2 separate regions of the Homo sapiens genome follow, and region 1 is linked to region 2. Evidence: fine-mapped expression QTL. A gene starts in region 2. The other region holds a variant in brackets. All regions are shown on one strand. Distances are between the middles of the regions. Region 1 has its middle 34 kb from the start of CAMSAP2. Region 2 holds the start of CAMSAP2 (calmodulin regulated spectrin associated protein family member 2).

What was found. PIP is the estimated chance that this variant, and not a neighbour inherited with it, causes the effect.
Region 1: its variant is the best candidate, but not a certain one, in a credible set for the expression of CAMSAP2 in whole blood (TOPMed, PIP 0.58).

The regions. Positions count from the first base shown.
Region 1 is chr1:200,702,239-200,707,621 of GRCh38, forward strand. No RefSeq gene overlaps it. Among named protein-coding and RNA genes, the nearest start is that of CAMSAP2, 34 kb to the right of the region's middle. The variant G/A (reference allele first, on the strand shown) is at 2,661.
Region 2 is chr1:200,735,737-200,741,119 of GRCh38, forward strand. CAMSAP2 (calmodulin regulated spectrin associated protein family member 2) reads left to right here and starts at 3,157. Exons shown (of 17, transcript NM_203459.4): 1 at 3,157-4,230. The coding sequence starts at 4,092. RefSeq lists an enhancer at 2,787-2,866 and silencers at 3,507-3,866, 3,897-3,966.

The sequences.
Region 1 (5,383 bases), 33 kb before region 2:
ATATACACAGAGTGGAATACTGTTCACCCATCAAAACGTTGGAAATCCTGTCATTTGCAACAACATAGATGAATCTGAAGGACATTAGGTTAAGTGAAATGAGCCAGATACAGAAAGACGGATACCACAGGATCTCACTTACATGTGGAATCTAACAAAGTTGAACTCATTGAAGTGGAGAGTAGAATGGTCGTTTCCAGGGCTAAAGGGGTGGGGGAGATTGGGGAGATGTTGGTCAAAATATACAGAAGTTCATTTAGACAGGAGGGATAAGGTTTCAAGAGACTGTACAACACGGTGACTATAGTTAATAATATATATTGTATACTTGAAAATTGCTGCATAGATTTTAAGTGTTCTTGCCCCCCAAAAATGTGTCTGTGAGATAATACATATGTTAAGTAGCTCAATTTAGTCATTACACAATGTATAGATATTTCAAAATATCATATTATACATACAAATATATACTTTTTATTTGTCAATTTAAAAATGTTTAAAGTTGTGGTGTATACACACTATGGACTAATACTCAGTAATAAAAATGAACAAACTATTGATAGATACAATAATTTGGATTAGTCGTCAGGGAATTATGCTGAGGGAAGAAAAGCCAAACCCAAAAGGATACGTACTATATAAGTCCATTTATATGACATTTCTGAAATGAAAAAAATTAAGAAATAAAGAACAGTTTAGCAGTTGCCAGGGGTTAAGGACAGGGGTAGGGAGGTTGGTGTCATAAACGAGCAACATGAAAAATTACTGGGGTGGTGAAACTTCAGTATCTCGACTATGATGGTGGATACACATGGAATAATATTATACAGAACTAAATATACACACACACACACACACAGGCATACACAAAAATCAATACAAGTAAGGAAAACTGGGAAAGCCTGAATAAAATTGGTGGATTGTACAATGTCAATATCCTGGTTCTGATATCGTCCTGTAGTTTTCCATAATGTTACCACTGGGGAAATTGGGCAAAGGGTACAAGGCATCTCTCTGTATTTTTACTTATAACTGCATGTTAATCTATGATTATCTCATTACAATTTCAATTAGAAATAGATAGCTTCTAAGTTTTTATTTTTATTTATTTTTTTGAGACAAGGTCTCACTCTTGTTGCCCAGGCTGGTCTCAAACTCCTGAGCTCAAGCCATCCTTCCACCTCAGCGGGACTTTCCCAAAGTGCTGGAATTACAGGCATGAGCCACCGTGCCTGGCCTGAACTTTTAAAATATTTCAAAGGGCATGAAAAATGAGAGAAATAAATGCCATCTGTTATTGAAGACATGTAGCTATAGGTGGACTGTCTATCCATCTGGAAAAAAAATACAGTCAGACCCTGTGTCTTATTATGCAAATTATACCACATAAATAGAAGAAGAGATCATTAGCTTCATCTTTTATATATGTTTGTACCATGTAATTTTACTTGTTATTGCAAGCATGGGTTACTGCTGTAATGTTCAAAAAATCAAATGGAGAATTTTTTTAAGCCAAGCCCAAGTTTTTCCCTTCAATACGTCAAATGTTTACCACAATCTGCATGGAGTGCACATATCAGAGGAATATGCTAAATGTCCATTTTGGAGACAGTATACAGTCACATATTGGCTTAAAAAATTACTTTAGGCTGGGCATGGTGGCTCAAGTCTGTAATCCCAGCACTTTGGGAGGTCGAGGCAGGTGGATCACCTGAGGTCAGGAGTTCAAGACCAGCCTGGGCAACATGGTGAAACCCCGTTTCTACTAATAATACAAAAATTAGCCAAGCATGGTGGCACATGCCTGTAACCTCAGCTACTCCGGAGGTAGGAGAATCCCTTGAACCTGGGAGGCGGAGGTTGCAGTGAGCCGAGATTGCACCATTGCACTCCAGCCTGGGGCAACAAGAGCAAAACTCCATCTCAAAAAACATAACACAGAAAGAAAATAATACTCAAATTTAGGTGCACAAATATGTATTTAAGTTCATCTTGAAAGAATATTAGATAGCGACTGAAAAAATAAAGCAAAGCAATGCTCCCTAATGCAAAGCAAGAAAGAGACTGACTCAGTGTGGATGGGAATATGATGCTGCCTGTAACACACAGCAGCGACTATTCAGGCCTGTGGGCACTACCTGTATTAACTCAGGCAGCCACAGCACCAGGCAGAGCCAAACTCATCATTTAAGACAGTTTGCTGAGGCCTGTAGGAAGACCACCAGGGCCTTAGGCAAATTGTAAAACAGAAAAATTTAAGTGTATTCCCTTTCCTTATGTCTTCCCCTTCCTCAGACTCCCATTGCCCATGTCATTGGATGTGGAAAGAGATTTTCTTGTCTGAAAATTTCAGCACCAGCCTCAAAGCTGTGGATGACAGGTGACAAATGCCCCTGTGTTCAAAAGAGAGATGTTAGATACATTCATGCAAGACTTACTAAAAGGTGACCAAACCGATCTTTGTTTTTTGTTTTTTGAGACATGGTCTCGCTTTGTCACCCAGGCTGGAGTGCAGTGGCCACATCACGGCTCACTGCAGCCTCAACCTTCTGGACTCAGTGGATCATCCCACCTCAGCCTCCCAAGTAGCTGGGACTACAGGCACGCACCACCATGCCTGGCTAATTTTTGTTTCTTTATTTATTCATTTTGCAGAGACT[G/A]GTCTTGCTTTGTTGCCCAGGTTGGTTTTGAACTCCCAACTTCAAGTGATCCTCCCACCTTGGCCTCCCAAATGTTTGGGCTTACAGGCATGAGCCACCACACTGGGCTCCTGATCTTTAATAATCACTACTATTACCCATCTCCAAGTTGGTAAGAAAAGGGGAGATTTATTAATGAGCTTCTTGGTAGTAAGAGAATTCGTATAATTAGAATGCCTTATTAACATGCTTCCTCTCCCACCAGCAAGTCAAAAGAAGCAGTTCCACTTGGAAGGGATCCAAATGATCTACTTTAGAGATCGGCGCTATCTACAGGAGAGGAGACTGGCATCTCATTTTTCCATCTGGAAGCTGGATGTCTTGCTGCCACAGTGAAATACAGGAGCATTTTGGGGAGAAAATGTCTTCAGGAAATTGTGTTATACAAGATAAAAGTAGAGACTAGTGGCTTAACTCTCCCCTCATAGGGTGGGGGCCTAGCTAGAGTTGCCCATGGCATCAGACAAGATTGTCTAACAAGCCAGCCCAGATTCTTAAGAATCACTCCTTCCTCTGAGTTCCATATTGCTGATTGGCAATGAAATAAAATATTCTGTCTCTGTAAGCACCCTCAGATCACAAAACCTAATTTTCAGTTGAAAAATGTGGTCACCCTACATCTAGTCTTTCTCATTTATGTCACCATTTATTTTAATGTTTATACCCTACATGTCACTACAAATTCCTTGACAGCAGGGTTATTCTTCTTATTATTTGTCTCATTATATCCCCAGACTTAGCATGCAGTCGATTCTAGGTAAATATTTGTTGCTGGTGTTTATGTTGCTGATAATTCAGTTCTTTCTTTTCTGCAGTCCTTCTCACCTTCTTCCTGGGGACCTCTCCCTAATACTTATTGCCCTTATGTTAACTTCCTTTTTCTTTTTTTTTTTTTTTTTTTGAGATGGAGTCTCGCTGTGTCGCCCAGGTTGGAGTGCAGTGGTGTGATCTCAGCTCACTGCAAACTTCGCTTCACAGGTTCAAGCAATTCTCCTGCCTCAGCCTCCTGAGTAGCTGGGATTACAGGCGCCCACCACCACGCCCGGCTAATTTTTATATTTTTAGTACAGACAGCGTTTCACCATGTTGATCAGGCTGGTCTTGAACCCCTGACTCGTGATCCACCCGCCTCGGCCTCCCAAAGTGCTGGGATTACAGGCATGAGCCACTGCGCCTGGCCACCCTTACATTAACTTCCTAATGAACTGGGAATCAAAACTACAGGCTTACTGTTTTACCAATGATCTGTGGCCCAGATTTCTGAAAATGCTATGTTCCACTTTCTCTGTTTTAAAAATGGGAACAACAATATATTTTTTTCTGTCTAATCACTAAGCATATTAGCAGAATCAAATGAGATGATGTGACTCATGTTGCTCTGTAAATCTGATTATGTATCATTAGCCCTTTGCAAGATCATTTCCAGAGAGACACAGAAATAACTTATCTAAAAGGATACTAGCTTCTCACAGGATTTTCTTTTTTATCCTCTTGTCAAACTAGAAATCAAGATTGGTAAGATTTCGGTCCTATAGGAATGAGATAGCTGGGCCATGAAGCAATTATGACTTATTTCAAGGATTTAAACAATGTAAAGAAAGCTTAGCTCCAAGGCTTCTCATTCTGTAAAGGTTAAAAATTGTATCCTAATTTCCATTTCTGGAATCTCTATTAGTCACAAGGAGGAGTCTACTGTGCCCTAGTTTAGCAGAAGGCAGATTAAGTACAAGATCGACATTTGCTCTCAAAGAAAGCAAATAGCCATATTTTGTCTTGAGAAACTACCACGATATGGAGAAAAAGATGAAAGATAATAAGATTATCTGGTGGGTTTTATTTGCCGTGTTAATGCTCTGGATGATTCAGGAAAACAAGCCCAGAAACTGAATTGTCTAGATTATTTGTCATCATCTGAATCTGAATTTGCTTATTCCACAGATAAATCAGCCAACCCTTCATTTTCCTGCTGGTTGTTTAAAAGTAGGGAAATGAATCAAATATCCAATTTTTCTTCCCTGGTAGTGGAGAGTCCAGAGCTCTGACCTCAGCTAGAATTTTGGGGGTACAAAATCAGAACTGCCTGGGGTACAGGTGAACAGCAATGGGGGCCTGAGGTGGGGGACCCAATGAAGGAGTCTCGGGAAGCAAAAATAGAGGGCCAAAAAGATCAATGGCCCAGACAAAAGACAACTGGATTCGAAACAAAGATCTGCAATAGTGCATACAAGATGGAGTGACTGCGATGACTGAGTGTGGGGGTACCTGAAAGTGCAGCAGGCAGAAGGACATCCTACGAAGTGCCCATTTCTGAGCATCATTAGCTGTAGCAAGTCAGAGCAGCAGCTGTCACTTCACATAACACATTGCCAAGCAGAACTGAGAGTATCTAGTGATTTCCAAAGTACCACAGAGAAGTCAACTAATAGAATCCTTGCTAATTTATTCACCCATTCATTTCTTCATTCAACCAACACTAATCGAGTGCCATTCTATGCCAAGATCTGTTCTGTGCTATTAGGATATGGCAGTGAATGACACATGTGGAGCTTCGAGTCTAATGAAGGAAAACTACAACTATAGACAAAGTAAATAAGAAAGCTATATGGTATTTAATATTTAAGAAGATATTAAGGGCTATGGAAAAAATTACAGCAGGGTAAAAGGTATTGAGAGTGCCAAGAGTG
Region 2 (5,383 bases):
ATTTATGTGCTCTAGAATTCAGTCAAAGTTGCATTTGAGAACATTAGATTCAACAGATGTCTCCAAGAAACCTTCCCAATCCCTCCACCTATATATGGTCTGCCTGCAAGCTTTTTTTGGTTTGTTTTTTGTTTTTGTTTTTTTTTTGAGATGGATTCTCGCTCTGTTGCCCAGGCTGGAGTGTAGTAGCATGATCTTAGCTCACTGCAACCTCCGCCTCCCAGGTTCAAGCAATTCTCCTGCCTCAGCCTCTCAAGCATCTGGGACTACTTGCGCACATCACCACGCCCAGCTAATTTTTGTATTTTTAGTAGAGATGGGGTTTCACCATCTTGGCACGGCTGATCTCGAACTCCTGACCTTGTGATCCACCTTCCTTCAGCCTCCCAAAGTGCTGGGATTTCAGGCATAAGCCACCGCACCCGGCCTTTTTTTTTTTTTTTTTTTTTTTTTTTTTTGAGACAGAATCTTGCTATGTTGCCCAGGCTGGAGTACAGTGGTGCGATCTCTGCTCACTGCAATCTCTGTCTCCTGGGCTCAAGCAATTCTCGTGCCTTGGCCTCATGAGTAGCTGGGATTACAGGTGTGTGCCACCAGGCCTGGCTAATTTTTGTACTTTTAGTAGAGACAGGTTTTTGCTATGTTTCCCAGGCTGGTCTTGAACTCCTGACCGCAAGTGATCCACCTGCCTCAGCCTCCCAAAATGCTGGGATTACAGGCATGAGCCATTGTGCTTGGCCCCTGACTGCACTTTATATCTCTTACAGCACTTATCACTTTTACATTGTATTATAAATTTATTTATGTACATGTTAGCCTCCATAATGCGGAAAGAGAGCAGGCACAGGGAAAAGTGCCAGAGGAGTGGAGCCAGAAGACCTGTGCTTGAATTTGAAGCCAGACTCAGATATGAATCAACCATGAAATCTTGGCCATGCCACTTAATCTTTGCAATTCTCAGTCCTGCATCTAGAATTGGAAGACAATAATAATTCCTACTTCATAAAATAGATATGGAAATTAGTTATCATATGAACATGCTTTGTGAGTTGTTATCTATCTGTTAATTTTATTAACCTCCATGTGATACAGCAAAGGGCCTTCCTTGCCCATGAGAAAAACCCTATTAATATTAATTAAATTATTGGAAAAATTACATCAACCACCCTCTGGCATATTATTATTTTCAAATTCTTTTCATATCCCACATTGTTAGCAAGCCTCATCTGTTGTGTCCTACTAGGTTTAAGGAGGAGTGTTTACAGGGATTAAACAGAAACAAAGGGACCTGCTTTTTGATGGAGCTGCCCTCTGCCTTTACTAGTTGTGCAGAATAAGAGTAATTAATTTTTTTTTCTGAGCCTTAGTTTTCTCATCTGTATAATGAAGATAATACAGGATTTTATAATGATTAAAATTAGATAATGCTAGCGCTTTGGGAGGCTGAGGTGGGAGGATCCCTTGAGTCCAGGAGTTTGAGACTAGCCTGGGCAACATAGGGAGACCTCATCTCTACAAAAAATAAACAAAATTAGCTGGGTGTGGTGATGTGTGCCTGTAATCCCAGCTATATGGGAGTCTGAGATGGGAGGATTGCTTGAGCCTGGGAGGTTGAGACTGCAGTGAGCTGTGATTTTGCCATTGTATTCCAGCCAGGGCAACAAAGCAAGACCCTGTCTCAAAAAATAATAATAATAGGCTGGGCGCAGTGGCTCACATCTGTAATCCCAGCGCTTTGGAAGGCTGAGGTTGGCGGATCACCTGAGGTCAGGAGTTCGAGAGCAGCCTGGTCAACATGGTGAAACCCCATCTCTACTAAATACACAAAAAATCAGCTGGGCGTGGTGGTGCGCGCCTGTAGTCCCAGCTACTCAGGAGGCTGAGGCAGGAGAATCGCTTGAGCCCTAAAGGTGGAGATTGCACTGAGCTGAGATCTTGCCACCACTCTCCAGCCTGGGCGACTTAACAAGACTCCGTCTCAATAATAATAATAATAACAACAACAATCACTTAAAAATAAAATTAGATAATGTATTAAAATGAGACGTGAGGAGCTAGTGATTTAAGTAAGCTCAGTATGTGTTAACTTTGATAATATTCACATGTAGTCCATTAATTGAGCAATTATACTATGGGGCTGGGCACCGTATAGCTGCTGGAGATATACCCTGTCATCATGTCATCAATGGGAAAAACCGACAAGTAACTGATTATTGCCACACGATGTGACAGATGCTACGACAGAAATAAGAACAGGGTGCTCCGGGAACAACAGGGGAGGCACCTGTGTGACAGCCCTGACTGGAAAGTTGTCAGCAGCTGTCAGGGAAGGCTTCATGGAGGAAGTGACTACTGTGGAGTTTGAAGGTGCAGTAGGAGTAAGCTGGGTGGACAGAGGAACCACCCTGAGCAAGGAGGTAGAGATCTGAGAAGGCATGCTCATTGAAGAAAATAGAGAGCAGTTCTGACAAAATGAAGCTATAAAGGCCTGTAGATGCCAGATCACAAAGGGCATTAGCTTGTTTTGTGAAAGAATTTATGCTCTTTTCTGAGAGAATGGGGAGGCATTGTTGGACGTGTGCCCTCTCAGAGATAAAATTTAAGTGGAGAGCACTGAGTTAAGAAAATATCTCGATATCATGAAATTAACACAGGTTTGGAGCCCCCACAGATCCTCAATCCTGGTTAAGTTCCATGTATGACCTAATCAACTCCACCTCTCTTTCGTGGACAATCAGCAATGACATCTACCTCTCAGGATTATTGCGAGGGCTAAATGAGATAGTGCAGGTCAAGTTCGCTGCAAAGTGTGTGTCACATAATGAACATTTTAAGTAAATATCAACTCTTTTCGATGAAGCACTGTGTAAGTAGAATACGAAAGCTATTGCCAGGCCTCTCCCTCCTCCCTCCCTTCCTTTTCCTCTCTCAGCAGTGCAGGCAGCAGCAGCCAAAAGCCAGGGACGTGGAGGATGTCCACTGAAGCGAGTACTCCAGAGCGATGATTAAAAGGCAGCCGCCCCGAATCCCGGGCGCGGGCGGGGAGCGAGGCTGGGCATGCTCAGTGGGCCGGAGACGGGAGGGAAGCGGGGAGGGGGCGGGGGCGGGGGCGGGGGTTGGGGGGGGTGGGTCGGAGCCGCGCGAAGGCGCATGCTCAGTCTCCGCATCTGCTCCTTCATCCAGTGCCGCAGCCGGAAAACCGCAGCGGCGGCGGCGGCGGCTGAGGGGGAACGATCCAGCGAGCTGCAGAAAGGGGGGCAGGAAAAAATTACAAGGACATTACTGATAAGACAGGAACTGAGAGCTTGGGATTCGCGGCCTCTCCCCGGCCACCACCTTCGCCGTCAGCAAGGGAGGAAGACCCGGGAGACGGCAGCGGCGACGGCGGCAGGGGAAGGAGGAGACGGCGACGGGAGGGAGCACAGAGGAGGGGACGGGCCGGCGGCGGCCTGTGAGCCGCAGTGATTTTGACGTTTTCCGCTGCTGCGTCTCCGGCGGGCAGGGGCCGGGCTGCGCTGGGTGGGCCAGCTCGCCCCGCGCTTCCCCCTCGTCCTGCTCGTCCCTCCGCCCACCCGGGGCCTGAGGGGTCTCCCCGCTCCGAGGGAAGGGGAGAGGGAGGCGAGGGCGTGCGGGCATCGCGATGGCGGGGACATTTTCCACAACGTGATTGTTGAAGGCTCCCCCCATCCCCCCTCCCTTAAAATTCCGGGCCCTTCCAGCCTCCACCCTCCCCCAAGCCCGTGTGACTAAACCGAGACAAAGGGGAGGCGGCCTCGCTCACACGCGGGCTCGCGGGGCGGGTGGCTCGGAGGGGCGCGGGCACGGGGCGGACCTCGCGCGGACGGACGGACGGAGACGGCGCCGCCACATTCCTATGCCCGGGAGCGGCGGCGGCGGCGGCGGCGGCTCCCGCGGGAGGCGGCAGGCGCGCGGCGCGGACAGCTGAGCTTCTCCTCCGTCGGCGCCCGGGCGGACATCGCCCGGGCCCCGATGGTTTGAGCTTGCTTCTCCCTCCCTCCCGACCCCCGTGGTGGCGAGGCCACGCCATGTGAAGGTTAGGGCCGGGACATCCCGAGGAGCCGCGGTGAAAGATGGGGGATGCTGCAGACCCCAGGGAGATGAGAAAGACGTTCATTGTTCCAGCCATCAAGCCTTTTGACCACTATGATTTCTCCAGGGCCAAAATCGCCTGCAATCTGGCCTGGCTGGTGGCCAAAGCCTTTGGGACAGGTTAGTGGTGTCACCCTTTCCCTCCCCTCTTCCTCCTGATGTGGTCCACATCTCGGTTTTTGTTCCCGATTCTCGAATCCCTCCCTCCCCGTGCCTGTCTTCTCGTACAGGTTAAGGGAGATGATGGGAGGCTAGGAAGAGAAAGAAAGGAGAAATAAGGAAAGCAGGTTTGGTCTTCAATGAAGGGCACGTGAATGGTCAGGTGGGATTTGGCCAGATTCCTTTTATTGGATGGCAAAATGTCCCCCCCATCCCCCAGTGAGCAATTTTATGTTTTTACATAGAGTGGTTTTGATTTGTGGTATTTTCTTCATTGTGTTGCGTACATTTCTGCCTCAGTCATAATTGTGATTACACCACCAAGAAATCTGAGTTGGTTTCTTTATTATTGCAAGAAGGTGGATGGTGCATAGTACTATATTGATTTTGACATTTGTAATGATGGCTGCTATTCAGGCTCCGTTGGATGTAAGGTGGCCTGTGTCGAGTGCAGTATTAATTTTTGTTGTCATTCTTTAAGGCTGTATCAGCCTTCTGCACGCATGTTAAGTTCTTATTAAATCAGTTATTTAAAACCAGCGTTCAGTTTGCTGACTGTAGGGTGCAGTTTTCATTTCATATTATCAGTGAGGCATATTCTTTTTTCCAAATGTATTTTGGCTTCATAAATTAAAAGAAACAAAAACTCCCTACTTTGGGAAGTTTTTTAATAGATGAGTTTTTCGAAGGCGTGTGCTGTTGACACAGAAATTGTATAGTACAGTAGCAGTTAAACACTCCCTCCATAACCCAGTCTTTGCAAAATAACAGGAAAAGGGCCTCCCGTTATGATTCTTTAGTGTTGCTTTAGGAGCCCATGTTGTGAAATGTTAAAAAAATTAGAGAGCTGCTTTTCATTGGAAGATGCTTCTGTAATTTGGTAACTTTTAAGAGTAATTTTACAAGATTTCTGTTCCCTAGTTAATGAAGTTTAGATATATGAAATATTTGTTGAAAAGTTCCCTAGTACTCACAAATTTCCACATGTTAAATATAGGGTTTTTCAGGGGGAGGGTGACTAATTTCCAATTTTAGGACTATGTAATGTTTTGGTAAATGGTTTAGTTCAGTTTTACTGCTTAAACTTACACAGCTGAGTATTTTCAGGACTTAC